Regions from separate parts of the Homo sapiens genome. Here region 2 is linked to region 1. Evidence: fine-mapped expression QTL. Tissue or cell type: cerebellar hemisphere. Region 1 holds a variant in brackets; the other region holds the start of a gene. All regions are shown on one strand. Distances are from middle to middle.

Region 1 (2,682 bases):
AGTAATTTTAACCACACTTTTATGGAAATTAGCAAAGACTTGTCTAAGAGTGAGAGTGGGAGAAGGTATTCTTTCATAGGTGGCTTGTTGAAAGTGACCCTCTCACAACTGAGTTCTTTATTCCAGCCGTGGCTGGAATGGGAACCACTGGTAAGCAGAATGCTTGCCTTTCTCCTCCATGCCCAGACCACCCACTTAGGTACCTGATATCTTGGATAGCAGATTTCCGGTCTCGTTTTTTCCCCCAAACTTTCAGGCTGTTCACCAACAAGATGACAAACTCTCCATTCTTCATGCCAATGGCCACCATCTCCCCATCAGGGCTGTAGGCTGCACACCTGGCCGCATGGCCCAAGCTCACCTTGTTTAACAGCTTCTACATTGATGCAAAGGAAAGTCACCTGAGCTCTTGGCCCCCTCAGCTGGTCTCCAGGAGACATTCTGCACCAGGCCAGAGAAGTCAGGCTGCCCTCGCAGCCACTGCAGGCCACCAAATCTCTTGCTTCTTAGAGTAAATGTCCCTGAATAACTGAGCAGAGCTGTATGTCTTGATTAGAGCAGCTTGGGGGACAACAAGTTTTAGGGCACAGGCTGCCCAGCTTTTTCTGTAAATGATTAGGTAGCACCCACTTTAGACTCTGTGGGCCATAGTCTCTGTCGCAACTACTCACCTTTGCCACTGTAGCACAAGACAGCCTCAGTACCTGAATAAATGAGGGCAGCTGGACTTGTAGAAACAGGCCACAGGCCCGATCTGGCCTTTAACTGTAGATTGCCAACCTCTTCTTTAGGGGAAAGAGTGTGAGCTTCTGCCTCTGCTAGTTCAAATTCTGAATCCTGGCCCTGTCACTTACTAGCTGGGTGTGTTTGGGTAAATTACATCTCAGTTTTTAGAGTTTTACTAATAGCGATGTTAATAAGGGTTTTGCAAGGTTATTGTAGGCACTGATCATGTCCATGAAGCAGCTGGTGTTATGTAGTTAGTCAAGTAGTGACAGCTGTTGCTAATAATGTTTAATAAATAATTACAGAAACTAACTTAAAAGTCTAGCAACCATACTCAAGCTTTTACCTGACTATTCTGTGACTCTGACACTAAAAATACAACAAACACTTACCAGCCATTTTAAAATGAAACCAAGTATTTTAATTAGTTGAACTTGAGTACTTGTTTTAACACTGGATAAGGCCATGAGGATCGGCAAGAACTCTTTGTTCCCTCCCACCCACCCCGCTCCGCCCAGCCACTCCTTGCTATTTCACAGTTTTACTCCAGATGAACTTTAACATTGCCTTCCCAAGCTCTAAGAGAAACCTTGTTGGGATTTTGACAGAAATACATTAGGCCCATTTCAGAACATTTCACATTTTAAATCATTTTTAGTCTTCTCATCCAGGGAAAACATGATTTGTCTCTATATTTTTAGTTTTGTGGGTTCTTTCATGACAACAGAATAATCCTTCTCAATTATATTGTTTAGACGGGGTGTGGTGAGTGGGGCTTCTTTTATCGTTAGGTTTTCTAACTCGATCTCCTACCTGGCCCCATCCCCGTCTCTGCCATGACGCTGGCTGGGCCTCTCCTCGCTCAGCTCCCACTGC[C/T]GCGCAGCCCACTCGTGGGCATCTGAGTTTGGGCAGAGTCGGCCTCACCTTGTCAGCCAGGTCCCAGATCCGGGCTGTGCCATCGTTGCTGGCAGAGATGAAGAGGTCCTTGGAAGGGTGAGTGGCCAGGCCCCAGATCTCCCCTTCCATGTGACCATCAATCAGGATGTTAGAAGCAGCATTTTTTTCACCAACTTCAATTATTTCTCCGTCTTTGGTTCCCACTAAGATTTTTCCCTGTTGTAATTGAAACACTATTAGAAAAAGGACAAATACTGTATGACTGCACTCATATGAGGTATCTAGAGTAGACAAATTCATGGAGACAGAAAGTAGAATGATGACTGCCGGTGAATGGGGGTGGTGGACAGGGGAGTCAGTGTTCAGTGGGTACAGTTACAGTTTTGCAAGAAAAGTTCTGTGGATGGTGGTGATGGCTGCACAACATGTGAATGCACCTAATGCCACTGAATTGTATATTTACAAATGGTCAAAATGGTCAATTTTATGTCTATTTGGCCACAGTTAAAAAAATTTAAAACACCACTATTATTAGAAAAACTTGGGGATTGCTTGAGCCCAGGAATTTGAGGTTGCAGTGAGCTATGATGATGGTACCACTGCACTCCAGCCTGGGTGACACAGTGAGACCCTGTCTTTAAAAAAAAAAAAAAAACAAGTAACTTGAGAAAATGCCTTTGCAGTGTTAATATTAAAATAAGAAGGGGTGAGAAGTGTTGTTTTTGTTTGTTTTTTGAGGCAGGGTCTCACTCTGTCACCCAGGCTGGAGTGCAGTGGTGACATCTTGGCTCACTGCAACCTCTGCCTCCTGGGTTCAAGCGATTCTCCTGCCTCAGCCTCCCCAGTAGCTAGGACTACAGGTGCCCGCCACCACATCTGGCTAATTTTTGTATTTTTAGTAGAGATGGGGTTTTACCATATTGGCCAGGTGGTCTCGAACTCCTGACCTCAAGTGATGTGCCTGCCTCTTGGCCTCCCAGAGTGCTGGGATTACAGGTGTGAGCCACCATGCCTGGCCAGTGTTTTGTTTTTAACAACAAACTGTCCATTCTTAATTGC
Region 2 (2,682 bases), 510 kb after region 1:
CACATCCAGCAGAAGCTGCAGGACAAGGTAGCAGCAGCTCCAGGCCTCGGCCAAGGGCAGCCCCGGGCCTGGGTGGGGCCGGGCGGGGGCCGCAGGCGCCGAGCGGCCGTGCCAAGCCCCGCCAGCGAGAACCAAGGAAGCTGCGATACTGCTGCATTGTGCTGCATCACGGCGAGGGCACCGTGAGCCATCCATCTTGCCAAAAAAGCACATCCCCGCCCAAATAAACCCCACCGAATTCAATTTTCTGCTCCGCCGAAGCACCCCCACACGCACCCTGTCCTCACTTACTATCTGGCCTGGCTTTCGATTGGAAAAATAATGGACAGAGGTTTGCGTTCTGATCCCCACCCCCTCCTCATCTGATGGCAGCAGTTGGCACCTTTCCTATCACAAAAACAAAGAGAAGGCGCCCCCTAAAAGAGGGCCGTGGGCGTGGTGTGGGGGGTGATGACGAGCCAGCCCACCTACCCAAAGCAGGCCCGGAGGGTCCCTGCGCTGAGACAAACCTGTTGAAGAGAGGGTGGCAGGAGCTGAAGGGCGGGCGCAGCGGCGGCTCGGCGCCCGGAGGCGGCTCACGCCCAGCCCTGGGAGAGTGGGGACGGCAGAAAGGGCGGGGGGGGGGCGGGCGCACGAGGGTAGCAAGCGCAGGGATGGGGCGGAGGTGGGGGCGCGGGGCCGCCGCCTCCGGCTCAGCTGCAGCGCGGCGCAGCCGGGACCACGCCTGGCCGCATCCCCTGCACCGCTACGCGCAGAGCCCGGCCCTGTCACCGCCGCCCCCGCTCCCCACCCGCGGGGCCACAGAGAGGGCACCTGAAAATAGACCCTCCGGCTGTCCGCTGTCCGCTCCGCACCCACCTCCGCGCCAGGGGCCTCCGCGTCAGGGGCCGCCGCGCCCGGCTGCAGGGAGGCGCCGGCGGAGGCAGGGAGGAGGAATCGCCGCGCCGCGCCGGGGCTGGGGCCGGACGGCAGCGGTGCGCACGGCGGGTCTGCTGCCGCCTCACCGCAGAGCCTGCCGCCCCTCGTCCCGCATCATCCGAGTACCAATGAGCACCCGCGACCCGGGCTCCCCGCGCCGCCCCCGCCCGGGCTTTGCAGCCTCCCTGCCCCCACGCGGCTCCCCGGGCGCAGGGCAGGCGGGCAGCGGCGTCCTCCGGCCCTGGGCCCGCGCCCCTCCTCCCGCCCGTCCGCCGCCGCGGAGCCCACCCGGGAGGCAGCCCCAGTGAGTTGGCATCTCCCTGCCTCGGGCCCCCTACCTACCTCCCGGGGATGGGGTGGGGGCGCCGGGGTCCCGTCCTCCTCCCGCTCCTCGGCGGCCGGGCGGGTGGGCCGGGAGGCGACTCCGCGGGTCTGTCCGCGGCTGGGGCCGGGGCTCACAGGACGGGACCAGTGGGCGCTGCTGCGCAGGGCTGCGCGCTCGCTCCGGGAGGAGAGGCGGCCGAGGGAGGGACTGGAGGAATCCGCAGCCTGCACGGCAACAGCGGCACTGATTCCGGGGGCTGGGCGGGAGCGCGGGGGGCGGGGGGAGGAGGAGAGGAGGGCGCTCGCAGGGAGGGGGCGAGGGGCGGGGAGAGGAGCGCGCGGGGCGGGCGCGCGCGCACACACACACAAGCGCACTCCCGGGATCCCTCCCGCACGCCCTCCGCCCTCCGCACTCCTCCCTCCCCACTCCCGCCCGCTCCCTCTGCTTCGCCCGCCCTCTCCTCCTGCCCGGAGCCCCGCAGCCGCCCAGGGAGCCGAGCCTCGGGCGCGTCCACGTCCTCTCCAGCTGAGGCTCTTCCCGGGTCCAGCCCGGACCTCATCCTCCCAGCGGCGGGGACCGACCAGGCTGGCCGGGGCGGGGTGGGCACTGCTGCTGCCGCTACCCGAGCAGGACAATAGGGGCTTTGTCTCCACAGCCGGAGAGGGCCAATTTCACGTTTAATTTGAGGCTAATTCGATTATCGCCATGGAAAGAGGCGGTCTAATTTTCTACGTGATTTGTGCAGCCTCTTTTCGCCCTTGATGTTGCGTTCGGAATGCTGGGGAGAGAGGGTATTTAGGGAGGTTTTGGAGCGTCACTTGCTTGGTTGGTTTGAGATGCAGTTGGTGATGCCTTATAGGTTCTACCCAACTTGGAGAAGGGCGACGGCGACCTCTTCGTGGGAAACCTTGGGCGCTGGAGGATGGGTGGTGGGGGTCGTTCCTTGTGAGGTTAATGTATTCTTTTGCAAATGCTTTTTCGCCCACCCTTTCGCTTTGGGTAGCTGGGAGCAGACCCTACAAGTGGTTCATCCAACTCCTGCCTCTCAGTGCAGGCTCCGCTCGAACCTGAGGCCAGGTGCCCTGCCCCAGTCACTCCCGAGAGAGGGGTCGTCCGGCCGCGGTGGAGGGCCCCGTGATGGCGTGGGGACTTGCGTTTTCCCCTATGCGCATTCCCTGAAACGGAAACTGGACGTTTCCTCAAATTTTTGTCATGTGCCACTGCCCCTTCCCAGTCACCTGGTCTACCCCGTCAGCCCCTCAGGCTGTGTAGAAATTCCAGAACCGTCACTGTTGTGAAGAAAAGATGGTGGAATCACCAGGACCACGAATGGAAACGCTCTTTAGAAAAGCAGTTTGAAGAAACTGACTTTCTCCTTGTTCTGTAAAGTGCACAGGGCGGCACTGCGGGCATTCAGAGGGAGGAGGGCCCTTCCTGTT

Evidence for each region. PIP is the estimated chance that this variant, and not a neighbour inherited with it, causes the effect.
Region 2: SPTBN1 starts here. The variant in region 1 is fine-mapped to the expression of SPTBN1 in cerebellar hemisphere (GTEx, PIP 0.98).

Annotation. Positions count from the first base shown.
Region 1 is chr2:54,961,680-54,964,361 of GRCh38, reverse strand. EML6 (EMAP like 6) reads right to left here. Exons shown (of 42, transcript NM_001039753.4): 36 at 1,651-1,839; 37 at 204-376. Among named protein-coding and RNA genes, the nearest start is that of RTN4, 87 kb to the left of the region's middle. The variant C/T (reference allele first, on the strand shown) is at 1,603.
Region 2 is chr2:54,455,097-54,457,778 of GRCh38, reverse strand. It overlaps SPTBN1 (spectrin beta, non-erythrocytic 1), which reads right to left and starts at 1,452. Exons shown (of 36, transcript NM_003128.3): 1 at 1,261-1,452.